4 linked regions of the Homo sapiens genome follow. The protein of the gene in region 2 interacts with the protein of the main gene of each other region in a pairwise test. Each region holds a gene or a part of one and is shown on either strand. Other genes may lie near its edges.

Region 1 (7,025 bases), on a different chromosome or scaffold from region 2:
TTTTTTTTGAGACAAGGTGTACCTCTGTCACCCAGGCTGGAGTGCAGTGGGGTGATCTCGGTTCACTGCAGCCTCTGCCTCCTGGGCTGAAGTGATCCTCTCACCTCGGCTTCCCAAGTAGCTAGGGTTACAGGCACACACCAACATGCCCAGGCTAATTTTAATATTTTTTTGTGGAGATGGGGTTTTGCCATGTTGCCCAGGCTGGTTTTAAACTCCTGAGCTCAAGTGATCCTCCTTCCCCAGCCTCCCTAAATGCTGGGATTACAGGCACAAGCCACCACACCTGGCCAGTATTGTAAAGCAGCATGTGTTATAGTGTTTTGGTGTTGGATTTCAGATCTCTAAACATACTTTATTTGGTTTACCAGTTTTACCTTAAGACTAATTAGAGGCCAGTTTGATTCTTGTCTGAATTGTTTTTACTTCTCCCACTTTCTTCTCACCCTGTAAATCTGAAGAACAAAAGACAGGTAAGAAGTGAGAAAAGAAAGAAGAGACAGTCTTTCTTTGATATTATTTAAAAGGCTAGGAAAGAAAAGGATGAATGTCTAGACAGTTCTGGATATTTTGAGTAAAAATATGTAAAAATATATAATATAGTTATTGTAATATTTTAAGGTGCATTTTGTCCTTTGAGCTGTTCCATCTTGGGTTTTCTGACATTTTTATCTAGTGATTGAGTACACTCATGATATAGGACGTAATAGCCATTGACTTGGGCCGTGAAGCTCAACTGTGACACCTCTTCCCAGGATGGAGGCCCTTTCTTCCTTAAATGTCTCTTTGGGCTGCCCAGTTCATCTTTTACTCTTGGCCCCCTGCCTTTTGCTCAGTATTGCCCAAAATTTTACTTTAATACCATTCAGCCCACCATCCATGTTAACATTTTTAGCTAACACTTTCTAGGTATTTGTTGTTGTTCTTGTTGTTGCTTTTAGAAACAGGATCTTGCTCTGTCACTCAGGCTGGAGTACAGTGGTGCAATCATAGCTCACTGTAACCTTGACCTGGGGTCAAGCTGTCTTCCCTGCTGCAACCTCCCAAGTAGATAGGACTGCAGGTGCTCAACATCACACCTAGCTATTTTGTTTTCTGTTTTTGTTGAGACAGAGTCTACCTTTGTTGTCCGGTCTAGTATCCAACCCCTGGCCTCAGGTCCTCCTGCCTCGACCTCCCAAAGTGCCAGGATTACAGGCATTAGCCACTGCACCAGCCCATTTCTTGTTTTTAAGTAATTTATAGAAGTGAATTTAGTGCACATTTAGATATATGCTAATACTAATGAAGGGTGTGAGGGTAATTTCATCAGTGTGATCCTTCTTTGATATGTATAATTGTTTTTTTTAGTCTTACTTGATTGTTATGCAGATAGATTTAAGAGGGGCCTCACCTTCCACTATCAATTCATTGCAGTTAAGTAAGCTTTTCTCATATAGAAATTCTGGATCCAGTACATACTGCATTTCATTACACACACACACACACACACACAAACACACACACAATGACTAATGTAAATACCTTCCTGCTTTATAAGTCCCACACAAAGCAATTGTGTTCATATGCGTGTTTTTCATGGCACTCCTTGAATCAGCTTGGAGTCACTACAAATTATTATGGGTAATAAAGGGCATGTGCCAGTAGGAGGGATTCTCAGACAAGGGAGTCCCCTCCCTCCAGGGCTTCAGACTTCATAAGGGAGCAAATAGGGAATTTATGTGGCACAAATATTTAATTTGTACGATCATCCTTAGGTGATGCTTTCATATTAGTAAGGATGTATTTGTGAGTCCAATTGTAGTCATTAGCTTCTGACCGTACCTTCTCCCCTGCATATTGCCTGCACTACATTGCCATTGTTGACTTCTGGGACAATTTTCCAGGATTTCATTACTAACAAACCTTGCCTTTTCTGGTTGCAGTTTTTAGATACTTTATTTAGGTTACATTTAATCTTGTTTACCATATTTAGGGTGACTGTGTGTTCAAGGTGAATGTATTTGTCTATTGCTTATTTGTTGCTTTTATAATTTATTTCCAGCAAATCTTATTACTAGTACGTCCAGCTACCTGGGACTGGGGATGGGCAGATGACTCACTTCCACTTGCAACTTCACGTACCATCTAGAGATGGCTTTAGGGTTGATGAGAGAAAAAGAGATAATGCACAAGATTAATCAATTGTAGCTGCTTTTGTCAGCATTGTATTATTATTCTCTCTATTGAATTTATTAGATTTTGAGACTATCATAAAGAGAAGATAGAACTGTTTTAGAGCATTAATTACAAAAACAGTTTACTATAGTGGAAAGAGCACTGGGCATAAGAGCAAAATAAGTGTGGCTCACTACCTGTTTGTTTTAACTTTTCCTGGAACTCAGCTTTCTTTTGTGAAATGAGGCCTTTTGATGAAGTATCTCTAATCTCTGGTAATCTTTTTCAAAAGACTGCCAAGAGACCGTAGGGGTCATTTAGGCTACCTTCTCAGTTTAGTCACATAGTTACTAGAACCTATTTTTGTTCTGGTTTTTATTCCAGTTGCTTTTTCCATTATACTACCTGTGATAGGGAGCCTTCTAAAATGACCTTGGTATTCACTCTTGTGTAGTTCCTTCCTCTTGAGGGTGAACTAGACCTAGAGGCTCACTTCTACTAGAATATGGCAAAAATGGTGTGATGTCACTTCTCAGATTAGATTACAAAATCTATGACTTCCCTTTTTGCTGGCACTCTGTTGCTCACTCACCTTGAGGAAGTCAGCTGTCATGTTGTGAACTGACCTGTGAAAAGGCCCACCTGTCAAGGAACTGAAGGGGACCTCCAGCCAGTAAGGAACTGAGGTTCTCAGTCTAAAAAACCTCAGGCATTTGTTTATTTATTTATTTGAGATGAAGTCTCACTCTGCCGCCCAGGCTGGAAAGCAGTGGTGCGATCTTGGCTCACTGCAACCTCCGCCTCCCGGGTTCAAGCAATTCTCCTGCCTCAGCCTCCCAAGTAGCTGGGACTGCAGGCACATGCCACCACGCCCAGCTAATTTTTTATATTTTTAGTAGCGACAGGGTTTCACCACGTTAGCCAGGATGGTCTTGATCTCCTGACCACGTGGTCCGCCCACCTTGGCCTCTCAAAGTGCTGGGATTACAGACGTGAGCCACTGCGCCCAGCCCCCTCAGGGATATTAATCCTGCCAACGACCACCGAGAGAGTTTGGAAGCAGATCCTCTCCCTGTTGAACATTGAGATGACTGCACCCCTGGCTGACACTTCGATTCCAGCCTTTTGAGAGACCCTGGGCTGGAGGACTTAGCCAAGCAACACTCAATTTCTGATTTTTAGCAACTGTGAGATTGCAAATGTGTATTGTTTTAAGCTGTTGAATTTGGGTTTAATGTGTTAAGTAGTGAGATTGCAAATGTGTATTGTTTTAAGCTGTTGAATTTGGGTTTAATGTGTTAAGTAGTGATATAGTTTGCCTGTGTCCCCACGCAAATCTCATCTTGAATTGTAGCTGCCATAATTCCTTCATGTTGTGGGAGGGATCCAGTGGGAGATAATTGAATCATGGGTGGTTTCTCTCATACCGTTCTCATGGTAGTGAATAAGTCCATGAGATGTGATGGTTTTATAAGGGGAAACCCCTTTTGCTTGGCTTTCATTCTTTTTTGCTGCCGCCATGTGAGATGTGCCTTTCACCTTTCACGATGATTGTGAGGCCTCCCAAGCCACGTGGAACTGCGAGCCCATTAAACCTCTTTCTTTTGTAAATTGCCTGGTCTCAAGTATGTCTTTATTAGCAGCGTGAAAACGGACTAACACAGTAAACAGACTAACACAGTAAATGGACTAATACAGTAGAGTGGGGTGCTGCTGAAAAGATACCTGAAAATGTGGAAGTGACTTTGAAACTGGGTAACAAGCAGAGGCTGGAATAGTTTGGAGGGCTCAGAAGAAGACAGGAAAATGTGGGAAAGTTTGGAACTTCCTGGAGACTTATTGAATGGCTTTGCCCAAAATGCTGATAGTGATATGGACAATAAAATCTAGGCTGAGGTGGTCTCAGATAGAAATGAGGAACTTGTTGAGAACTGTAGCAAAAGCAAAGAGACTGGCGGCATTTTGCTCCTGCCCCAGAGATTTGTCGAACTTTGAACTTGAGAGAGATGATTTAAGATATCTGATGGAATAAGTTTTTTGTTTTTTTTTTTGAGACGGAGTTTTGCTTTTATTGTCCAGGCTGGGGTGCAGTGACACGATCTCAGTTCACTGCAACCTCCACCTCTGGGTTCAAGTGATTCTCCTGCTTCAGCCTCCTGAGTAGCTGGGATTACAGGCATGCACTACCACGCCCAGCTAATTTTTTGTATTTTTAGTAGAGACAGGATTTCATCATGTTGGCCAGGCTGGTCTGGAACTCCTGACCTCAGGTGATCCACCCACCTCGGCCTCCCAAAGTGCAGGGATTACAGGTATAAGCCACTGCACCCAGCCAGTGGAAGAAATTTTTAAGCAACAAAGCTTTCAAGAGGTGACATGGCTGCTGTTAAAACACATTCAGTTTTTTTTTTTTAATACCTTAAGTTCTAGGGTACATGTACACAAAGTGCAGGTTTGATACATAGGTATATACATGTGCCATGTTGGTTTGCTGCATCCATCAACTCATCATTTACATTGGGTGTTTCTCCAAATGCTGTCCCCCGCCAGCTCCCCATCCCCCAACAGGCCCTGGTGTGTGATGTTGCCTACCCTGTGTCCAAGTGATCTCATTGTTCAGTTCCCACCTATGAGTGAGAACTTGCGGTGTTTGGTTTTCTGTCCTTGTGATAGTTTGCTCAGAATGATGGTTTCCAGCTTCATCCATGTCCCTGCAAAGGACATGATCTCATGCTTTTTTATGGCTGCATAGTATTCCATGGTGTAAATGTGCCACATTGTCTTAATCCAGTCTGTCATTGTTGGACATTTGGGTTGATTCCAAGTCTTTGCTGTTGTGAATAGTACCATATAAACATACATGTGCCTGAAACACATTCGGTTTTATAAGGGAAGCAGAGCATAAAAGTTCAGAAAATTTGCAGCCTGACCCTGCAATTGAAAAGAAAAACCCATTTTCTGAGGAGAAATTCAAGCCAGCTGCAGAAATTTGCCTAAGTAACAAGGAGCCAAATGTTCATCCCCAAGACAATGGGGAAAATGTCCCCAGGGTATGTCAGAGGTCTTCATGGCAGCCCCTCCCATCATAGGCCCAAAGGCCTAGGAGGAAAAAATGGTTTCATGGACCAAGCTTAGGGTCCCCATGCTATGTCCAAGGACTTGGTACCCTGTGTCCCAGACACGCCAGCCTTGGCTGAAAGGGGCCAATGTAGAGCTCAGGCCATGGCTTCAGAGTGCGCAGGCCCGAAGCCTTGGAAGCTTCCATGTGATGTTGAGCCTGTGAGTGCACCGAAGTCAAGAACTGGGGTTTGCAAATCTTCGCCTAGATTTAAGAGGATATATGGAAATGCCTGGATATCCAGGCAGAAGTTTGCTACAGGGATGGGGCCCTCATGGAGAACTTCTGGTAGGGCAGTGCATAAGGGAAATGTGGGATTGGATCCCCCACACAAAGTCCCTACTGGAGCACTGCCTAGTGGAACTGTGAGAAGGGGGCCACCATCCTCCAGACCCCAGAATGGTAGATCCACTGACAGCTTGCACCATGCTCCTGGAAAAGCCTCAGACACTCAACACTGATACGTGAAAGCAGCTGGGAGGGAGGCTGTACCCTGCAAAGCCACAGGGGCAGAGCTGCCCAAGATGTAGGAACCCACCTCTTGCATCAGTGTGACCTGCATGTGAGACATGGAGTCAAAGGAGATAATTTTGGAGCCTTAAGATTTGACTGTCCTGCTGGATTTTGGACTTGCATTGGGCCTATGGCCCCTTCATTTTGGCCAATTTCTCCCATTTGGAATGGCTGTATTTACCCAATGCCTGTACCCCCATTGTATCTAGGAACTAACTTGCTTTTGATTTTGCAGGCTCACAGGTGGAAAAGACTTGCCTTGTCTTGGATGAGACTTAGGGCTGTGGACTTTTGAGTTAATGCTGAAATGAGTTAAGACTTTGGGGGATTGTTGGGAAGACATGATTGGTTTTGAAATGTTAGGACATGAGATTTGGGAGGAACCAGGGGCGGAATGATATGGTTTGGCTGTATTCCCACTCAAATCTCATCTTGAATTGTAGCTCCCGTAATTCCCTCATGTGGTGGAAGGGACCCAGTGGGAGATACTTGAATCATGGGGGCAGTTCCCCCATACTGTTCTCCTGGTAGTGAATAAGTCCAGGTGAGTTCTGATGGTTTTATAGAACCCTTTCGCTTGGCTTTCATTCTCTCCTGCCACCACCATGTGAAATGTGCCTTTTACCTTCCATGATGATTGTGAGGCCTCTCGATCCATGTGGAACTGTGAGTCTATTAAACCTCTTTCTTTTGCAAATTGCCTAGTCTTGGGTATGTTTTCATCAGCAGTGTGAAAACAGACTAATATAGGTAGCAATAGACAACTACACTATTCATTAATATCAGAAAAGCTTTAATCTGTTTTTATCAGTTTAAACTTATTTGAGGATATGATATTATTATTATTATTATTATTATTTTTTGAGATGGAGTCTCTCTCTGTTGCTCAGGCTGGAGTGCAGTGGCACGATCTTGGCTCACTGCAACCTCTGCCTCCCAGGTTCATGCGATTCTTGTGCTTCAGCCTCCCGAGTAGCTGGGATTACAGGCACGTGCCATCATGCCTGGCTAATTTTTGTATTTTTAGTAGAGATGGGGTTTTACCACATTGGCCAGGCTGGTCTTGAACTCCTGACCTCAGGTGATCTACCCACCTCAGCCCCCCAAAGTGCTGGGATTACAGGTGTGAGCCACCATGCCAGGCTGAGGGCATGCTATTTTTATATCTTGAAAAACCAATTATTAACAGTTTTAACTATAAATCCCATACTTGTTTTTGGTTATAATTTAATTGCTA
Region 2 (7,025 bases):
GTAGTTGGGACTACAGGTGTGTGCCACCATGACTGGCTGATTTTTTTCTTTCTTTCTTTTTTTTTTTTTTTTTTGTAGAGATCGAGACTCACTATGTTGCCCAGGCTGATCTTGAACTCCTGGATTCAAGTGATCCTCCCATCTCGGCTTCCCAAATTGCTGGGATTATAGGCATAAGCCACCACACCTGGTCCACTGCTTGATTTTTAGTCATAAAATTAATCTTGCATTCGAGAGATAAACCCCACTTGGTCATGATGCATTATCCTTTTCCCATATTATTGATTTTGATTTGCTCATGTAATGTTAAGGATTTTGCTTTTGTGTTCATGAGGGATTGTTTTCTAGTTCTTTTTTGGCAATATTTTTGTCTAATTTTTTTATCAAGACAATACTGTCCTCATAAAGTGAGTTGGGAAGAGTTCTCTCCTTTCTAATTTTTGAGACAGTTTATGTAAAACTGCTATTATTATTTCTCTGAAAATGTCTGGTAGAATTCACCTGTAAGGTCATCTGCTTCACAGATGGTGTTTTCTTTTTATGCATGATTTTTTGAAATTCACTTTTAAATTTACATAGAGTAAAAATTACTCTTTTTGTTTACAGTTCTATGCATTCTATCAAATGCTTGTACGCAAGTTACCATGACTACAATCAAGATGCAGAACAGTTCTTTCCCTTCCCTTGGCCCAAAGTAAATTCTTTCATGCAGTACCCCTTTGTAGTCAAACTTTATCTCCACATGTAACTCCTGGCAACAAGTGATCTGCTCCCTATCGTTTTTATTTAGCCTTTTCCAGAATATCATATAAGTGGAATCACAGAGTATGTAATCTTTCGAGTATAGCTTCTTTCACTTTGTAAAATGTTCTTGAGTTTTTTGTTTTTTGTTTATGTTTTTGTTTTCTTTTAGACGGAGTCTCACTCTGTTGCCCAGGCTTAAGTGCAGTGGCACGATCTTGGTTCACTGCAACCTCTACCTCCCAGGTTCAAGGGATCCTCCTGCCTCAGCCATTCAAATAGCTGGGACTACAGGCACCCACCACCATGCCTGGGTAATCTTTGTATTTTTAGTAGAGACGTGGTTTCGCCACGTTGGCCAAGCTGGTCTCAAAATTCTGACCTCAAGTAATCAGCCCACCTCGGCCTCCCAAAGTGCTGAGATTACAGGTGTGAGCCACTGCACCCGGCCTGTTCTTGAGATTTTTATCTATTTTGTTGTGTGTACCAATTGTCACTTTTTATTACTGAGCAGCATTCCATTATGTGGATGTACTACAGTTTGCTTTTCCACTCACATTTGAGAGACCTTTGGGTTGTTTCAAGGTTTTTGGCGATTGTAAATAGTCTTTGATAATTTGGGGGTGGTAACTTTTCCTTTGAAAATTTTGGCCAGATTTTCCTGTTTCTGATATGTTGAGTAATTTGGGATTTTAAGATGGACAATTTGACTATTATGCTGTTCATGCCTGTAATCCCAGCCTTGGGAAGCCAAGGTGGGAGAATCACTTGAGGTCAGGAGTTTGAGACCAGCCTGGCCGACATGGTGAAACCCCGTCTTTATAAAAATTGGCCAGGTGTGGTGGCATGCGCCAGTATTCCCAGCTACTTGGGAACCTGAGGCGGGAGAATCGCTTGAACCTGGGAGGCAGAGGTTGCAGTGAGCCGAGATTGCGCCATTGCACTCCAGCCTGGATGACAGAGTGAGACTCCGTTTAAAAAAAAAAAAAGGGCCGGGCGCGGTGGCTCACGCCTGTAATCCCAGCACTTTGGGAGGCCCAGACGGGCGGATCACGAGGTCAGGAGATCGAGACCATCCTGGCTAACACGGTGAAACCCCGTCTCTACTAAAAATACAAAAATTAGCCGGGCATGGTGGCGCGCGCCTGTAGTCCCAGCTACACGGGAGGCTGAGGCAGGAGAATGGCGTGAACCTGGGAGGCGGAGCTTGCAGTGAGTCGAGATCGCGCCACTGCACTCCAGCCTGGGCGACAGAGCGAAACTCCGTCTCAAAAAAAAAAAAAAAAAAAGAAAGAAAGGATATTATGCTGGCTATGAAGCTCTGGGTCCTGTTAAAATCTTCTAAAGATACTGATTTTTGTTTGTTTTAGTAAGTAATCAATCTGGTTAGGCTCAGATCACAAGTTCTGTCATGCCTTCAGGGACAGTAATTCCAATATTTAGTTTTCAAAGCCTTTGCTATGCTCTTTGGGTCTGTACATTACATGCAACGCTTGCGAGTTGTTCTGAGACCTTTGTGGTATTTTTATCATAGTTCATTTCTCAAAGCCTTAACTATGCTTTCTTGAGTAGTCCTCCCCTTATCTGCATGGGATGCGTTTATAAGACCTCCAGTGGATGCCTCAAACTGTGGATAGTACCCTATATATCCTATACAGGCACTGTGGCTATAACTTTTGCAGTTTGAGATGTGACAGCAAAACTAGTACAAAATTGTCTTCTCCACAATTTCACAAATAGAAGATTTGTTCTTATCATAGATTTTAGCAACCTCAGCATATGATTTTTTTATTTCCTTATTAAGTCAAAAACTTTCACCTTTTCACTTAAAGGAAGCACTTTATGGCTCCTCTTTGGTATATCCAAGTAGTCAGCATCACTACTCTTGTACTTTGGGGCCCTTATGAAGTAAAATAGGGTTAGTTGAATGCAAGCACTGAGATACATCAACAGTTGATCTGATAACTGAGATGCCTATGAAATGACTAGTGGGCAGGTGTCTGATTTAACAGTGACTTCAAAGCAGATATTATAAATATGTTTGAAGAATGAAAGGAAACCATATTTAAAGAATTAAAGAAGAGTATGATGTAATTCATCAGAGAATATCAATAAGTAGAAATTTTTAGGAAACCAAATTGAAATTCCTAAGTAGAAAATTATAATAATTGAAAAATTCGCTGGGGGGGTTCAATGGTAGATTTGAACAAGGAGAAAATCAGTGAACTTGAAGACAGATCAGTAGAGATTACAGTAGTATCTCCTTATTCATGGGGGATATGTTCCAAGATCCCCAGTGGATGACTGAAACCAGGATTGGTACCAAACTCTATATACACTATGAATTAATTTATTTTTCATTCTTCACAATTTCACAGGCAGAAGATTCATTCTAACCTTAGATCTTAGCAATCTCAGCATATAGTTTTTTTCTTTCCTTATTAAATTGAGAATGTTTCACTTTTTCACTCACAGGAAATACTTTATGGCTTCTCTTTGGTATGTCCTAATTGCTGGCATTACTACTCTTGTGCTTTGGAGCCATTATTAAGTAAAATAAGGGTTACTTGAATACGAGCACTGAGATATCACAACAGCAAATCTGATAACCAAAACAGCTAAGCTACTGAGTGACAATTGGGTGGGTAGGGTAGACAGTGTGGATATGCTGCACAAAGGATGGAGTGAGACAGTGCAAGATTTCATCATGTTCTCAGAACTGTGTGCAATTTAAAATTTACAAGTTATTTCCAGAATTTTCCATTTAATATTTTCAGACTGCAGTTCATCATGGGAAACTGAAACCTCAGAAAGCAAAGCCAAAGATAAGAGGGGCCTACTGTACTCCATGTTTGTGCAGGAGTAGGGCTGACCCTGTTACTTACGTAGTTTCAAACATAGAATTAGGATCACCTTCTCTAGTTCTCTTCTACATGGGATTTCGGCTACACTTTACAGTTTTTGTGGGCCCCTTTTGTTATGGCCAAAAGGATCAGGCTGTCTTAAAGATTTTGCCTTATGCTGCCATTCACTTCTAAGTACTTGGGGCTGCCCTCGAGGTAAAATATCAAGAAAAAGAGAGAAAGAGTATCGGGATTCCCCCACACACTCTCTTTCCAGTTCCTCTATTCAGAGAGACAGTGTTCTCTTTTATTCTTAGGAAACCTCACAGCCTGGCAGTGGCAGTGCAAATCTATGTTTGGAGCTGGCTTTGTGGCAGGGCCAGCAGACCAAAACGGAAAGAAAAAAATCGGGATTTCCCTACAATTTCTGTGTGGCAGGAGCCCCTTTTCTTCTACACAGTTCTCAATTCAGCCTGCTTTTAAGTGAAAGCCAGAAGATAAAGGAGGAAAAAAGAAACAAGGAAACTGAAACTTATTGGTATGTCTTATTTCTTAAACTGGGTGTTAGGCATAAAGATGTTCTTTTTACTATTATTCTTTAGACTTTATTCATACTTTATTCTTTTGTATGAATGAATTACTTTGCACAGAAGGAAATGAAGCAAAAATAAAAGGAAATAAAAATCGAAAACCTGGCCCATGACCATGGAAATTGGTCGAGTTCTGACTGAAGCAAATCCAAAATTGTTCTACAGGGAACAAGAAAAATTTTATTGTAATCTAGAATGTAAAGGATTTTCAGAAAAGAGAACTCCCGCTGAAGATGAGCTATAAATAAAAATTTATAAGCCATGACAAGAAATAAACCACCATGAAACAGAGTTTGTTTATGTAGCAAAAGAGAAACAGCAACCTCATAACAGAACAGACTAGAATAATTTTGCATCAGTATGTTTAAAATAATTAAAAAGGCAAGAGAAGGTAAAGAAACCACAGTAAAATAAACGGAGCAGTTTAAAATAAGAGAAAATAGATTTTTTAAAGAACCAAATAAATATTCTAGAAATGATAATATAGTCATTGGGATGAAAAATTCAATGCAGATATTAAACAATGGATTAGCAAAGATTGGGAAGGAATTAATGAATTAGAACATAGATTTGAGGAAATCATCCAGAATGAAATACGAAAAGATGAAGAGGCATAAATCATATAAACACAGTTAAGGGATATGGATGACAGAATGAGAAATTAAAATACATGTCTAAATGAGAGCTCCAAAAGTAAAGAATAGAAAGAGCAAGGAAACGCTGAAGGTTTATAAATTGGAGACTTTAGACAAAGAAAGCGTATTGACTTCTGAGCAGGACAAATAAAACTAAACCATATTAACAATATTCTAACAATCTTCCATAAAATAAAAGAGGCAACATTTGCCCTTCTAATTTTACCCTAATATCAAAACCAGAAAAAGACATGAAAGAATACTTTGGACCAATATCCTTCATGAAAATAAAATGTAAAAATCCTCACAAATTTAGCAAGTTGAATCTAGCAATTTATAGAAAAGATAATGATGGCAGTGGCTGGTGCCATCACGCTGGCTGCAGTAGGGAGGAAAGGCTGAGACTGCAGACCCAGGCCTCCCACTCCATGGGGCAGTCAGGAGCCCCACCCTCCTGGACGGTGCTACAGCCGCCCAAACTGCAGCTGTAGATCTGAGCCTCCCTGCGCTCTTGAAGTGGGGCTGGGAACAGGCAGGATCTGCCCTCTTGGGTGCAGCTGCAGCCGCCTGACCAGCAGCTGCTGACCTGGGCCTCCCACAACATGGAGCAGGCAGGAGCTGGGGAATCCCGCCCCTGCTGAGTTGGCCTGCGGGAGCTCCCTGGGTGCAGCTGCCACTGCCCTCTCACCCACGGGACCCAGGCATCTCTGCAGCCTGTACCCTCTGGTGCCCCGGAAGGCCCCCCATCCCTGCAGGCTTGGGGTGTCTGCTCCCGCTGCCTGACCTCTCTCCTCTCCTGGAGCTGGCTCAGATCTTGGAGTGGGGTTGGGGTTGAGCCCTGGGGCCATGAATGGCAGCGGGAGGCAGACAGATTCTTGGGTGGAAGGGGGCAGGTCCCCAGTAAGGCTCTACCTTCAGTCCAGGGAGGGCCTGAAGGCTGGGGGCCAACTGCTGGTCCTGCATACCAGTTTGGGGACTCATGGGGCCTCTTCCAGCAGCCCATGGCTGCCCATGGACCAATCAGCATGCACTTCCTCCCCTCTGAGGTCCATAAAAGCCCTGGGCTCAGCCAGAGCAGGGCAGACGATGGCCAAAGGACGAAGAGGATAGACAGACTACACAAGGACCAGCTGCAGAAAGGAGCTACCGTCTCTGCCGAGAGCTTCAGAGACAACCTGCCAGCAGACAGGAGGCACCCTCTCCAGGGCCTCCTCTCCACTGAGAGCTGCAGACATTGGGACAACCAGTAGTAGAGAGGAGCTACCCTCTCCAGGGCCACCTCTCTAATGAGAACTGAATGCTGGACAGATGATCTTCCTACAGAGAGGAGCTACCCACTGTGGGTCTCCTCTGAGCTCTTGTAACACTTAATAAAGCTCATCTTCGTCTCGTTCACCCTTCACTTGTCTGCGTACCTCATTCTTCCTGGATGCAGGACAAGAATTCGGGCAAAGGTGCTGTGGCCACAGAGGTTTCTGGCCAGGAAATTGACAACCCAAAACTCCCTGACAATAACATGATGAAATGTAGCTTATTGAGGGAATGAAACACTTGAAAATCAATCACTGTAATACACATATCAATAAATCAGAAGAAAAACAATATGATCATCTTCATAGATACAGAAAAAGCATTTGACAAAATGCAACATTCACTTATGATAAAAAGTCTAAGCAAATTAGAAAGTAAACTTCCTTAACTTGCTAAAGGGCATCTTTAAAAATCTACTGCTAACTTCCTAATTGTTGTTGAAATTTCCCTCATAAATAGGAAATAAATCAAGGATTTTTGCTTTTGCCACTCCAACTCAATATTGTAGTGGCGGTCTTAGCCAGTGCAATAACACTAGGAAAGAAAAGCCATACAGATGAGAAAGGAAGAAATAAAACTGTCTATTTGCAGTTTCACATAGAGATTTCAAATAGAATTAGTACCTATATATATTCATTAAATACTTCTCAATGTTGATAGTTATTAGTTAAGATTGTTGAGTTTATTAATATTTCATAAGAATAATAGAAGTCATAAGATATATCTCTTTTTAAATAGTTTATAATTCAGAAAGTTAAATTCTTATGGCTTTTCTCTTAAGCTAAATTGCTGAATTCTTTGTTTTGGTTACCTTTTCTTCTGAAAACTCTCTTATGACCTCTGCTGTCCATTTATTGAACATAAATCATTAAATAAAATATTCGTTGACATTTATATCTAGATGG
Region 3 (7,006 bases), on a different chromosome or scaffold from region 2:
GGACTATAAGTGTGTGCCACCACGCCCAGCTAATTTTTGTATTTTTAGTAAATATGGTGTTTCATCATGTTGGCCAGGATGGTCTCGATCTCCTGACCTTGTGATCCGCCCACCTCGGCCTCCCAAAGTGCTGGGATTACAGGAGTGAGCCACCGCGCCCTGCCGTCGATTGCAGGTCTTAAGACTCTCCCATGAGAGGGTCTCACCCTATTCCCTGGGAGAAGGAATGCTGATATCATGAAGCTTTCATAAAACCCCAAGAGGACAGGGTTCAGTGAACTTCTGGGTAGGTGAACAGTGGAGGTTCCTGGAGGGTGGTGCCCAGGGAGGTATGGAAGCTCTGCCCCTTCCTCCAAACCTTGCCCTATGTGTCTCTTCACCTGTGTCCTTTACAATATCCATTATAATAAACCAGTGGGCCAGGCATGGTGGCTCACGCCTGTAATCCCAGCACTTTGGGAGGCCAAAGCAGGCAGATCACCTGCGGTCAGGAGTTCGAGACCAGCTTGGCCAACAGGACGAAACCCTGTCTCTACTAAAAATATAAAAATCTAGCCAGGTGTGGTGGCGCATGCCTGTAGTGCCAGCTTCTTGGGAGGCTGAGGCATGACAATCACTTGAACCTGGTAGGCGGAGGTTGCAGTGAGCTGGGATCGCACCACTGCACTCTAGCCTGGGCGACAGAGCAACACTCCGTCTCAAAAATAAATAAATAAAAATAAACCAGTGAACATAAGCGTTTCTCTGAGTTCTGTGAGCCACTCACAGGTAGCAAATTAATCGAAACCAAACAGGGGGTCAGGGGGTCATGGGAACCCCAACTTGAAGCTGATCTGTCAGAAGTTCTGCAGAGGCCCGGCCTTGCAACTGATGTATGTGAGGAGTCTTGGGGACTGAGTCCTCAACTTGTGGGATCTGACACTCTCTCCAGGTAGTGACAGAACTGAATTAGAGGATGCCCAGCTGGTGTCTGCTGCTCAGTGTGTGGAGAAAACCCCACACACATTTAGTCATAGGTCTTCTGTGTTGACTGTTGTGCGGTGTGAGAGTGGAGAGTTTTCTCTACACGACAATAAAATTGGAATGTCTGGAGGTAGGATGCAGGCACTGGTGTTTTTAATTTTTAAGTAGTCAAAGTGGAGAACTCCTAGTCTTCCCACTTCTCTCTGATGAAGAACCACTACATTAACTCATTTAAATTCGGTATGCTCAACTGGGCACGGTGCCTCATGCCTGCAATCTCAGTACTTTGGGGGGCCAAAGTGGGAGGATCATTTTAGCCCAGGAGTTCAAGACCAGCCTGGGCAACATAGACCCCATCTCTACAAAAAATTAGTAAGTTAGCCAGGTGTGGGGGTGCATCTGTAATGCAGCTATTTGGGAGGCTGAGGTGGGAGGATCACTTGAGCCCAGGAGATCAAGGCTGCAGTGAGCTGTGATCACACCACCACACTCCAGCCTGGGTAACAGACTGAGATCCTGTCTCAAGAAATAAAATAACAAATAAATTCAGTACACTCCTGTGCAATGGGTAATTTTTACATTTCTATTTTGCAAATGAAACTGAGATCACAGATGTTACATGACTGGGTGATCCACAGTCAAACAGCTAGTAAGTGGCATGATTCACATCTTCTGACTCCAAATTCATTCTCCAGCCAGTGAGTGGGAGCCCGTGCAGAGCATCAGGAGCACTGAAGAGAAGACATTCTTCACAATGGCAGCCCCCATGGCTCTGAGCACCCCTGGGAATCCAGGGTTATAAACTGGAGTCATCGGGGTCTTGGCTGCGCATCCCACAGGGACCACCTTTGCACGGTGTGTCCTGCCATTGTGCCCCACACTGGTTGGGACAGGTCATGGGCATAGCAAAAGGTATCTGGGCACATTCAGCAGGTCAGAGAAACCTCCCAGCCTAGAACACACTATGAGCGTCTCTGAACCACTCCCTGTGTTTGCCTTTTGCTCTGCATGGGGTTTAGCACTTGCAGGCACTTGGAAATTTCACTCGCCCTTGGAAACTCCGTTCCCCCATAGCCTGTCTTTCATCCTGCTTCCTTCTCACCCCATTTTGCCTCTGATCCTCACATCCTCTAAAGTGGAGTTCCTACAAAGTATATGCACCTTTCTCATGCTACAGTGTACTGTAGCTCATTTTGTAATTCTGATATAACTCTCTGACATTTTTGTATATTTATGTTTTTATTTTTATTTTTTGGAGACAGAGTCTTGCTCTGTCGCCCAAGCTGGAGTCTAGTGGCAAGATCTCAGCTCACTGCAACCTCCGACTCCTGGGTTCATGCAATTCTTGTGCCTCAGCCTCACGAGTAGCTGGGACTACAGGCGCGCGTTAACCACAACTGGCTAATTTTTTTGTGTTTCAGTAGACACTGGGTTTCACCATGTTGGCCACGCTGGTCTCGAACTCCTGTCCTCAGGCAATCTGCCCACAGTGGCCTCCCAAACTACTGGGATTACAGGCATGAGTCACCGTGCCTGGCTGTATTTACTTTTTTTTTTCTTTTTTTGAAATGGAGTCTCACTCTGTCGCCCAAGCTGGAGTGCAGTGGCTTGATAACCACAACCTCCGCCTCCCAGATTCAAGCGATTCTCCTGTCTCAGCCTCCTGAGTAGCTGGGATTACAGGCATATGCCATCACGCCCGGCTAATTTTGTATTTTTAGTAGAGACGGGGTTTCTCCATGTTGGTCAGGCTGGTCTTGAACTCCCGACCTCAGGTGATCCGCCTGCCTCAGCCCCCCAAAGTGCTGGGATGACAGGCATGAGCCACTATGCCCGGCCGGGTATTTACGTTTTTAAATTGTTTTCTGTGTAAACTCTATAAGGGCCAGGGATTTTTTGCACCGCTGTTGGCAGCCCCTAGGACAATGCCTGGCCCTAGTAGGTGTTCGATAAATATATACAGGTTGAATATCCCTTAACCGAGATGCTTGGCACCAGAAGCATTTAGGATTTCAGATTTTGGAATATTTGCATTATACCAATTGAACACCCCTAATCTGAAAATCCAAAATTAGAAATGCTCCAATGAGGCCAGGTGCGGTGGCTCATGCCAGTAATCCCAGCACTATGGGAGGCCAAGGTGGGAGGATCACTTGAGGCCAGAAATTCCAGACCAGCCTGGGCAACATGGTGAAGCCTCCTCTCTTAAAAAAATACAGGCCGGGCGCGGTGGCTCACGCCTGTAATCCCAGCACTTTGGGAGGCCGAGGCGGTGGATCCATCCCTTGAGCCTAGGAGTTCGAGACCAGCCTGGGCAACACAGTGAGACTCTGTGCTAAAAATACAAAAATTAGCGGACATGGTGGCAGATGCCTGCAGTCCCAGCTACTGGGGGTTGGGACGCTGAGGCGGGAGGATCGCCATAGCCGGGAAAGTCGAGGCTGTAGTGAGCCATGACCGCGCCACTGCATCCCAGGCTGGGCAGCAGAAGTGACAGCCTTTCTCAAAAGAAAAGAAAGTTAAAAGAAGAAAAAAGAAGTGCTCCAATGTGCATTTCCTTTGAGCATCAGGTCAGCGCTCAAAAACTTTCAGATTTTGAAGCATTTCGGATTTCAGATGTTTGGATTAGGGATGCTCAACCCGTATTGATTTAATATGCGGTGGAAACGTGACGACCTAGGTTTTAAGTCGCGGTTTCCTCAGTGGTGGGTTTGGGGTATTACCCCTGCCTGGCCGGCCTCCGGGCTTGTTTCCAGAAGATGCTACCCCGAGAGCTGCGAACCGCCAAGCTCCGCAGCGCGCAGGGCTCCGACAGGGACCAGCGAGGTCAGCTCCAAGGGTCACCCCAGGCTCCAAACTGGCCAGAGCCGCCCTGAGATTTGCGGAGGCCGCCTTGCCCCCACCCCGCCCCGCAATCCCGGACCCGACCCGCCCCCTCTCCCGTTCGCTCGCCCCGCCCCCTGTTCGCCCACTGCGCCGGGACACCGAGGGGGCGGTGCCTCGAGGCCGGGAGGAGTGTTGCGTCGCGGCCTCCAGACACAAAGAGCGGCCGGCGGTACGGGGGTGGTGCCGCGCTCCTGGCCCCGCGCGGGCGGACGGCGGAGGCGCCTCCCAGGTGAGCCGGCCCGGGCGTCCGGCGGGACATTCAGGCGGCTGGTGGGGTCGAGAGTCCGGGGCCGCCCCTGCGTCGCGACCCGCGCCTTAGTCACCAGACCCGGCTCCGGGAGCGCGGCCTCGGGTGCTCCTCGCGGTGCGGGGCGCAGACTCGGCGCATCTGCTGTGGTGCCTGCTCTTCCGGTCGCCCTCGAGGGCGGGGCGGGGGTCACGCCCTAAAATACAGCGCCCGCTGGGCCGAACGCTTGAAAACCCGGTTTCCCGACGGCGGCGGCGCGGGCGCCGTGCGAACGAGGGCCCGGGTCCAGCACAGCCCCAAGGCTCGGCCTGAGGCGGGCGGCCTTGGCCGGGGCCCCCCGTGGTAATGAGCTACGCGGTGCCCGCCGCCTGCCCAGCGCGGGCCGTTTCTCCTGACGCCGCCGGCGTCTGGTCGAGGCCCAGGATTCCCTCCTGCCAGTGTGGCTGCGGCCCCCCACGGAGCGGGACCCGCGTTCGTGGCGCTTGGGACGGTTGATTGAAAGGGTGTAGAAGTCTGTTGCGAATTTTATCTGTTGTACTCGTTTTGCAGATTCGCCCCTTTCCTCCCGCCTGTGCGCGCAGTCACACACACCATGTGGGAGTCTCTGATCGCGTTGGGTTCATAATCATCGATCGTGCCTGGGTACTGATGCCCCATTGTTAGGAGCTCTGTGTGGGGCTGTATGTTTGCACAGGACTCACGTGAGGAAGGGTGGCCACGTTTCTTTCTGCTCTGTGAGACTTAGGCCAAGCCCTGGAACTAGGGAGGAGGTTCAGGAAGAGACCCATGAAGCTGGCGGGGCCTTGGAGAAGGGCAAGTGATTTTCAAGGTCAGTAGTAAGAGGGGTCATGAGTAATGGTAAGTTTCTTAGCGGCCTTTGCTGTGACTTCTAGGTTTTTCACACTGGACTTAAAATACTTTTAAAAGCAGAGTTTTTGTTCTTCTTGTTGTTGTTCTTGTTGTTGTTGCTGTTTTTGAAACGAAGTTTCACTCTTGTTGCCCAGGCTGGAGTGCAATGGCGCCATCTCGGCTCACTGCAACCTCTGCCTCCCGGATTCAAGCGATTCTCCTGCCTCAGCCTCCCGAGTAGCTGGGATTACACGCCCAGCTAATTTTTTGTGTTTTTAGTGGAGATGGGGGTTTCACCATGTTGGCCAGGCTGGTCTCGAACTTCTGACCTTCAGGTGATCCAGCTGCCTCGGCCTCCCAAAGTTCTGGGATTACAGGCGTGAGCCACTGCACCCGGCCAAGTTTTTGTTTTGTTTTGTTTTTGTTTTTTAATTTTATTTTACTTTAAGTTCTGGGATACATGTGCAGAACGTTCTGGTTTGTTACATGGGTATACATGTGCCATGATGGTTTGCTGCACCTATCAACCCGTCATCTAGATTTTAAGCCCCACATACATTAGGTATTTGTCCTAATGCTCTCCCTCCTCTTGCCCCCCACCCGCCCCGACAGGTCCCGATGTGTGAGGTGTGTGATGTTCCCCTCCCTGTGTCCATGTGTTCTCATTGTCAACTCCCACTTATGAGTGAGAACATGCGGTGTTTGGTTTTCTGTTCTTGTGTTAGTTTGCTGAGAATGATGGCTTCCCACTTTATGCATGTCCCTGCAAAGGACATGAACTCATTCTTTTTTATGGCTACGTAGTATTCCATGGTGTATCTGTACCACATTTTCTTTATTCAGTCTATCCGTGATGGGCATTTGGGTTGGTTCCAAGTCTTTGCTATTGTAAATAGTGCTGCAATAAACATACACGTTTATGTGTCTTTATAGTAGAATGATTTATAGTCCTTTGGGTATATACCCAGTAATGGGATCACCGGGTCAAATGTTATTTCTGGTTCTAGATCCTTGAGGAATCGCCACACTGTCTTCCACAATGGTTGAACTAATTTACACTCCCACCAACAGTGTAAAAGCGTTCCTATTCCTCCACAGCCTCTCCAGCATCTGTTGTTTCCTTGCTTTTTAATAATTACCATTCTAACTGATGTGAGATGGTATCTCATTGTGGTTTTGATTTGCATTTCTCTAATGACCAGTGATGATGAGCTTTTTTTTTAATATATGTTGTTGGCTGCATAAATGTCTTCTTTTGAGAAGTGTCTGTTCATTTCCTTTGGCCACTTTTTGATGGGGTTGTTTTTTTCTTGTAAATTTGTTTAAGTTCCTTCTATATTCTGGATATTAGACCTTTGTCAGAAGGGTAGATTGCAAAAATTTTACCCCGTTCTGTAGGTTGCCTGTTCACTCTGAAGAGTTTCTTTTGCTGTGGAGAAGCTCTTAGGTTAGATCCCATTTGTCAGTTTTGGCTTTTGTTGCCATTGCTTTTGGTGTTTAGTCATGAAGACTTTGCCCATGCCTATGTCCTGAATAGTATTGCCTAGGTTTTCTTTTAGGTTTTTTATGGTTTTGGGTTTTACATTTAAGTCTTTAATCCATCTTGAGTTAATTTTTGCATAAGGTGTAAGGAAGGAGTCCAGTTTCTGTTTACTGCATATGGCTAGCCAGTTTTCCCAGCACAATTTATTAAATAGGAAATCCTTTCCCCATTGCTTGTTTTTGTCAGGTTTGTCGAAGATCAGATAGTTGTAGAAAGCAGAGTTTGTTTTTTTTTTAAGTAGTTAAAACTCATCTGTTAAACAGAACACTGAATCAGCAGCCTAGCAGTTTTATGAACTGTGTGCAAGAATGCTTGTATATTAAAAGGAAAATGTTCAGGTGTTAGAGAAGCAGTCTACTTTCATGCTTGTCCCTTTTGTTTGACTTATACATCATCCATTAGTGGTTTAAATGATGACAGATTGAATTGATCTGTATTGGCAAATAAAAGTGGGATGTGTGTTTATGTAAAGTTCAGGTGCAATAAAAATTAGAGGATAACTCTTTTTTGTAGAATGA
Region 4 (7,991 bases), on a different chromosome or scaffold from region 2:
GGTGTCCTGGAACCAGTCCCCCATGAGTATCGATGAATGACTACATAAGCCACAGAGCCTGTGTGTGCCCTTCCTGGATCTCAGCATTCATTCTCCAGTCCGTTTGTTCATGTAGAGTCCCTGGTTGTTACTTTTCTCCTTCCATGACGTGCACTGCTCCTGTTGGTAAACTTGCTTGTTTTTCTCTTGTTAATCTGTCTGTTGTTGCAGGAGTCTGTCTCAACTACGAATTTATGTGGGTTGAGGAAAATTATAATTTCTCCCCTTCAGTAGGAAGCTCTTATTCTCTCCCTGTCCAAACATACTTGTCCATGTTCAAGATGTCAGTCACTTTACTGGATTAAAACATGCATTTAATCTTCTTTAAATACATGTGGATTGAATGAGCTGTAATCAAATCCACATGTTGTGGATCCTAAGGTCATCCTGATTTTTTTTTTTTTCTTTTGAGACAGGGTCTCAGCCGAGTACGGTGGCTCACCCTTGTAATCCCTTTGGAACTTTGGGAGACCGAGGCAGGTGGGTTGCTTGAGCCTAGGAGTTTGAGACCAGCCCAGGCAATATAGTAAGAGCTCATATTTACAGAAAGAAGGGATTGAGGCTGGGTGTGGTGGCTCACACCTGTATTCCCAGCACTTTGGGAGGCTGAGGCAGGTGGATCACTTGAGGTCAGGAGTTTGAGACCAGCCTGGCCAACATGGTGAAACCCCATCTCTACTAAAAATACAAAAAATTAGCCAGGCATGATGGTGCGTGCCTGTAATCCCAGCTACTTGGGAGGCTGGGGCACAAGAATTGCTTGAACCTGGGAGGTGGAGGTTGCAGTGAGCCGAGATCGTGCCACTGCACTCCAGCCTGGGTGACAGAGTGAGACTCCATCTCACAAAAAAAAGAAGGGATTGAGATTAAACCCCAAGATGGAGTCCCTCCTAGTCAGGGTGTCAGTCCCTCGCACAGACTACAGGGAAGCAATGCCATCTTCACCCCTGGAGATGGAGGTGAGAAGAAGCCATCCTCCTGGCTGCTCCCAGCTGGTAGGAAGCCAGTGCTGATTGGAGGTGGGGCTTTTTGGGACCAGCTCCCACCCCGACCAAAGGGTTTAACTTCTTATGGCTGTCTCTGTGCAGGTGTGAGCAGCTCCTTGGTGGGGTTGCCTGTGGGGGCCTCTTGGCCACCTGCACCTGCGGCATCAGCTCCTGTGGGATGGGGCCTGTGGCAGCAGCTACAGGAAGTGTTAAGTTGGCAGAGCTTGAGGATGCACCCAGCCCAGCCTCTCACCCTTGCGAGGGTCCCAGCTGGCCCTACCTGACCTTGTGCAGCCTGGTGGCAGGGCGCCACTGCTTGACCCACCCTGATCCACGTTGTCTGCTTCCCACTTCTTACTTCTTGTTGTGTGGGAATCTCTCTTCCTTGGCCCCTGCTGCCCTCAAGCTGAGAAAGGCTATTGAGAGGAGTGGCACGTAGCCCATGGGCATGTTCTGTTTGAGGATTCTGACCTGACTGAACCCACGAAGAGGATAGCCTCTCACCAACCATCTTTCAACCTTCTGCTTCCCTTGCTGTCTTGCTCTTCCCTTCCCTTCTCTGGTCTTCTTTTCCTCCTTGCTTCTTGCCTCCTTTAGAAGGCTAAAATTTAATAGACTGACAATACCAAGTGTGAATCAGCTGAAACTTTTGTGGAGTGTAAAATGATTGAGCAACTTTGGAAAACAGTTTGGCAATTTCTTATGAAGTTAAACATGCACTTATCAAATGATGCAGCAATTCCACTCCTGGGTATTTGCTCAAAAGAAATAAAAGCAGATCTATACAGAGACTTGTACATGAATTTTATAGAAGCTTTATTTATAATAGCCCTAAATTGGAAACAACCCAAATGTGTACCAGCAGATGAATGGATAAACAAATTGAGATATAGTCATACAATAAAATATCATTCAGCAACAAAAAATAATGAACTAGATTCATTCAGTGGTGATTAGATTGGAGCATACATCTGTCAAAATTTGTTGAACTGTACTTTTAGAATGTGTGCGCTTTATTGAGATACAATTGTATGCAAATTATATGTCAATTAAGTTGATAAAATAATGATTTAAAATGCATAAGATACTTAGAAATAAATCTAACACATATGTGAAAGACTTACACCTAGAGAAATATAAGCGTTACACAAAATGTTATAGGAAAGAAAAGATAAAGAAGACATAATTAAATGAAGAGCTATACCATGTTCTTAGATAGGAAGCTTTACTATCATGAATATGTTAATTATCCTTACAGTGATCTACAGAGTTGACGCAACTACACTCAAATTCCAAATGAAGATTTACATAATTCTTGACAAGTTGATTCTAAAATTTATGGGGAAGAACAAAGGTCAAGAACAGCTAAGGAATGATGAGAAGGAAGAAATAGGTACTCTCTCTTTCAGGGATTATAATGTATTATAGAGTTATAGTAATTGAGAAAGTATAGTACCCACACAAAAATAGACAAACTGACCAATGGAACAAAATAGCCCCTAAATTTATTTATAAATAAGTAAATGATTTTGTTGTAAAATAGAAGTGGTATGGCAGATCAGTAGTGAAAAGGACTATGCATTGGTTAACCACATGTAAAAAATAAAATTAGATCCCTGTTTTCTCTTATACACAAAATCAGTTTCAAATTAATTTAAATTACAAATGTCAAAAGCAAAACTTTAAGAATTTTAGAAGAAAATATTGGAGAATATTTTTCTGACCTTGGTGTAGAGAAGGATTTTTAAACATGTCACATAAAATGCTCAACATAAAAGATTGATAAATTAGATTACATTAAAACTAACAACTTTATTTTTCAAAATAGGTGATAAAGTGAAAAGATAAGCTGTAAACTTGATAATATTTGTGATATATGTAAGTGATATAATAGTAATACTCAGAAATATAAAGAACACTTATAATCCTTTAGAATACAGCAAAAACCCAATAGAAAAAAATGGACAAAAGAAAAGGAAATACACATGTAATAGACATTTAAAGAGATATTAAACTTTAACAGTAATCATGAAAATACAAAGCAAGACCAAAAATGAGATTGCATTATTTAATTGTTGAAAATTAAGACACATTAAAGAGGATACGAATCTTTTTCACATTGCTGAGCAAAGTGTGAATTGTTATAACAACTTTGGAAAATAATTTTATATTATCTTATAAAGTTAACACCTTTATAAGATTCTGACCATCCTATGAGTCAGAAGTTCTGTTTGTAGTTGTATACAAATCCTCACATATGTGCATCGGAGGACATGTAGAAAAATGTTCATGGCACCACCTTTGTAAGAGAAAGAAACAAAACAAAACAGTAATAGAATTACCTAAAGTGTGGTATAGTTACACAATGGAATACTATAAGAATGGAATATTAATATTATAATGGAGGAATACTAGCAACATAATGTTGAATAAAACAAGACCCTGTGTGACACACTTTTTATAAAAAAAGAACAAAAAAACTGAAACAAATATATATTGAGGCATATGCATGTATTTGATAAAGCTAAGAAAAAACAAAGGAATTATATCAACTTTAGGGAAGTGGTTACCTCTGGGGTGGTTAGGAGAGGACAGGGTAGGGAAGGAGCATGGAGCTAAATGTAAATTACTAGTAAGATTTTAGTTTTGGGATCAGTAAGTAGGTTCATGAGTATTTCATTTTCATTATATTATAATAATAAAGTAATATGCTAGTTATAAGAAATAAACTTAAAACATGAGGACATAAGTTGAAAGTAAAAGAATGTGTTAAGGTGATTGGTTAGATCAGATTGCCTTACACATAGTAGAAGTAAATGATTTTTCCATGAAACTTATTTCAGTAGATGTGGTGTATTTGTACGTAGGTAGTGATTCATGATACAACATATATTTCTTATTTAGAGTTGAGGTTAAAAAACAGTTTGACAACTAGTACCCCAAAGAACCTCTTGTTGAGGTCCACCAGCAGATATGTACAAGAAAGTTCATGGCAGCATTGTTTGTTACAACAAAAACAAAAAACACATGTGCTACCTATAGGAAAATAGAGATATATGTATATGTGTGTGTCTATATCTGTATCTATCTATATATATGTAGTCATACTTTGGAATACTATACAACACTGAGAAATAAAACTACATGCATCAAAAAGATGAATCTCAAAACTAGTATGTTGAGGAGGAAAAAGCAAGTCATAGAAATGTACAAGGTGTAATTCTATTTATATAAAACTTAAAGGTAGGCAAAACTCAACACTAGTTTATGGATACACGTTATGACATAGTAATAAAGAAAAGCAAGGGAATGACCAATATAAAAACTCAGGACAGTGGTTACTTTGGGGATCAGATGGGGTTGGAGATGGATCAGCAAAAATCCCGCAGGGGGCTTTGAAGGTACTGGTGGGTACACAAGGATTTGTTTTATTATTGTTGCTATTGAAATCAATAAATGTAGGTTTTGCATACTCTTTTGCATATATGAGAAATTTATAAAACAAAAAGAAAATGCTGACCACAGCTTGTGCTCTCTAGCCCCTACTCATTCCTACAGGTTAAAGTCATTGCCCTACCCAAGATTTCCTACCAAGTCTTGGGACTGGCATCCCCAGTCCCAATTTCTTGCCCTCCTGTCAATCTTCTGCACTGCTTCTAGACAATCACATCTCATGTCAGGCCACTGTCCTGCTCAGACACCCTCTGTGGCTCCCCAGTGCCCATCCATAAGCCTAAGCTCCTCAGCTCCACACATTTCCTCCACCTGAGGTAGCCTTCCCCTCCTCCACTTTCCTTTAAGTTCCACTTCAGCCCAGAAACTTCCATTTTCCCACCTGGGGTCAGAGTATGGCCCTCTTCTACCCTATGCCCCTGAGGCCTCCTGGGCAGAACTCTGTGATTGTAATGAGATGAGGTCACAGAGCCCCCAGGAAGAAGAGGCCCTAGTCCTCAGTGGCAAGGATTCTGGTAGCTCTTGGGCTGAAGCTGGGCTTTGGTGCTCAAGAGAGGCTTGGAGGAGACCACAGTTCTTTCTCCATGGTGAGACTCATACACGTGGCTCCCTGGTCACACAGGGATGAGGTGTCTTGGACTTCACCCAGATCTGTTGGGCATACAGCTTTTGGGAACAGGAGCAGAAAAGTTGGGGGCAGTGGGAACACAGCAGAAATTGAGATGATGTTTTGAGGTCTGTTCCCCCACACTCCATCTGCCCTAGAAGAAAGTTTGCAATGGGCTGGTGTGAACAGTTCTTGCTCTCTGGGTTGAGGGGGTGTGTATAACCTTGGTGGAGAGCAAAGAGCATGGGCTTAAAATGTAGTCTGGCTCAACTGTCGGCTGGCAGGGTCACTCACTCCCCTCTTGCACGTGGTGGATGGAATGAGCCCCAGTTTGCCTGAGGAAAGACAATGGGAAAAGTCACATCCATCTGGCCAACTTCATGGGTGGTTGTGAGGCCCCAGTGAGATCGTGGAGTAAAAGCTTGTGAAAAGCATCAGGCACTGTGCAAGTGTGAGTTATTGTTCCCTGGCTATTCGTGTATTGAATGCACATGGGGGCGAGGTGCAAGAAGGGAAGTGGTCCCCTGATTTCATAGACAGCACTTCCCATAGCAGCCTTGGGTTTGGGGAAGAAGCTGGAATCTAGATCACTGTCCCTGGTTTCTGATTAATGGCATTCAAATTAAGGACATTTCTTCCTAATCCTAGATTTTAAAATGTGTTTTTTAAATTAGGAAATATTGAATTTCATTAATTTTTTTTGTACTAATTTAAATGGTTAGATGTTGTAAACTACAATAATCAGTTTCCTAGAGTTTAACTCTCCCTGTTCCTGGGATAAACCCTATGTGATCTTGGTCCCAAAGCTCCCCTCAACAGATCACTGCCCTGTGTTGCTGCCCTTCCTGCCTGAGTTCAGGCTTCCTTTGGCATCTTCTGGCCCCATGGGCACAAGGCAAGCTCACTGTGTTCTTTCAACAACCTTTGGAGATAGGAAAAATGATCACTCCCATTTCACAGATGGAGAAAGGGATGCCCAGAGAAGCTAGGTGACCACTGGTGACAGCAGGTGGATGGGCAGCCCTGTCTGGCCTCCTCACCTCCTGACTACAGCTCCCCTCTGCCGTCTGCTCCACAGTGTGAGGAATTAAAGGCAACTGTGCAGAAACACACGCAGAGCCTGAAGCCCAGCAAGGAGGATCTGAACAGGCTTAATCAGGCCATCCAGTGGCTGACGGTGGAGGTGGGCAGTGCTGAGAGTCAGGTGAGAGGTGGGAGTGGGGGGCAACAGAGTGGCCATGGTGGGATGGTGACCATTATTTATGACAACTGCCCCTCCCCACCTACCCTTTGGATTAGATGGCTACACTTTCTCTTAGTGAATGTCTAAGCATACAGCAGTGCAGCTGCATGCATATATCATGCTTACCTCTGCCTAGGACATTGTGTATTTTATGTAAGTAATGAACATGTAGGTAAATCTGTATGAAGATATATGCTTGTTTGTACATTATTATCTTTTTACTTGTGTATGTTCATTTTTATGTCTGTGTTTTGTTTTTCTCGCTCAGTATTACATTTGAGCCCATCTTCAGAAATTGCAAGATATTACCTAGAAACCCAGTTTTCTGGGTTCTATTTCAAAATGTGAAGATCTGGCAATGTTAAATTATGATTCTCAAATGGCAACATTTGGCTAGAGGAGAGAGGCCTCTATCATCTCTCTCTTCTTCACATGCGGTATAGGCTGCCTGGTGTGCCGCAGTCCCCACCACTCCCAATCCCATCCTTTGGATGTGAGGCAGAGGGTCCCTTGCCATTTATCACTGTCCTGGCTGCAAGTTATTATCCTTGTAGAAGAGAAAAGGTGCTGAGTCAATGTCGCCAGAGAAATGCAAGTCTGAAAATATAAAAGAGGTGCTGGTGATTTCAGGAAATGGGAGAGGGCAGATGTATTTGTGGAACTGGGTACTCCTGATGTATATTTAGCCTTCACCTTTTGATGCTTCCAGCTAGGCCTCTGCAAGCACTTGCATTTGTGAGCCTTAGAAAGGAGCTAGTCCTCCAGGATGTTTTCTTTCTCCCATTCTCTCTTAGCCTCCTCTCTTAACCCACCCACCTCCCAGCCCTCTCACACCCCCGCTGGCTCAAGTCTCACTCCATGGAGGGAAGGGCTTCTGTTCCCGGTCTTTTCTTGCTTTCTGCAGATGCAAGTGTCTCAGGCTTGGAAGGGTATTCATGGAGAGAGATCTCCCTTGTACAGGAATGGGTGACTCTGAGAAGGGATAAGCTGCTGAGGTTCTGAGGGGGCAGAGTGAGTGGGTGGGCCATCATGGTCAGGGTCCCACCAGCCACAGCTGTTCTGGTTCCCCAAGCAGCAAATACACTTCACCAAGGTCTTATTATTTTTCCTCCTGAAGAGTATAAACTCTAGGTTCCCGTGAGGAATGGATATTCTTCTTGCTAGTTTTCCTTAGGAAACAATAACCACAGCATTACATGCCAAAGAGCATTGGATGCTTCTGGGATCCTGGCTCATATTAGGAGTTTCTCCATACTAGACGTAAAAGGCTCTCTCTCAGCCATCCTAGATAGCCGGTTTCAAATCTTCACCCTGAAGGTAGACAGGTGGGCAGGTTCTTTTCATCTTGCCATACAGACAAACAAACACAAGTTTTGGAACAGGTGTGCTCACTCCTTGCAACCATGGACAATCTCCAATCCCTCATTGGCTCTGCAGCCTCAGAGCAAGGTCTGGATCCTTAAGGGGGAAGGAGTGAGGGCCAATAATGTCCTTCTGTCCTTGGTCTACCCTTCGCTCCCTACGCCCTGTGAACTAGAGGAAGTCAAGGACCCGCCAGCTCTGCAGGAGGAGGGTGGCTCTGGCAGCACCAAGGGCAAGCTGGCTTGGCTGGAGGCTGCCCTGCAGCGAGCTAAGCAGGATGTGATGTAGCAGCTGTGTGAGT

The links.
Region 1: the proteins of CCDC146 (region 2) and MIPOL1 interact in binary tests that used the Homo sapiens proteins (3 or more experiments, as listed by UniProt).
Region 3: the proteins of CCDC146 (region 2) and NINL interact in binary tests that used the Homo sapiens proteins (3 or more experiments, as listed by UniProt).
Region 4: the proteins of CCDC146 (region 2) and KRT86 interact in binary tests that used the Homo sapiens proteins (3 or more experiments, as listed by UniProt).

The regions. Positions count from the first base shown.
Region 1 is NC_000014.9:37,200,913-37,207,937, forward strand, and holds part of MIPOL1 (mirror-image polydactyly gene 1 protein), read left to right. Parts: intron 1-7,025.
Region 2 is NC_000007.14:77,125,603-77,132,627, reverse strand, and holds part of CCDC146 (coiled-coil domain-containing protein 146), read right to left. Parts: intron 6,123-7,025; exon of another isoform or gene 5,856-6,122; intron 4,123-5,855; exon of another isoform or gene 3,902-4,122; intron 1-3,901. UniProt on the Homo sapiens protein: Essential for sperm flagellum biogenesis and male fertility.
Region 3 is NC_000020.11:25,582,527-25,589,532, reverse strand, and holds the start of NINL (ninein-like protein), read left to right. Parts: upstream 1-4,001; 5' UTR 4,002-4,078; exon of another isoform or gene 4,079-4,882; coding exon of another isoform or gene 4,883-4,925; exon of another isoform or gene 4,926-4,944; coding exon of another isoform or gene 4,945-4,954; intron 4,955-7,006. UniProt on the Homo sapiens protein: Involved in the microtubule organization in interphase cells. Overexpression induces the fragmentation of the Golgi, and causes lysosomes to disperse toward the cell periphery; it also interferes with mitotic spindle assembly.
Region 4 is NC_000012.12:52,269,658-52,277,648, forward strand, and holds the start of KRT86 (keratin, type II cuticular Hb6), read left to right. Parts: upstream 1-4,987; 5' UTR 4,988-5,062; coding exon of another isoform or gene 5,063-5,065; exon of another isoform or gene 5,066-5,420; intron 5,421-6,163; coding exon of another isoform or gene 6,164-6,289; intron 6,290-7,991.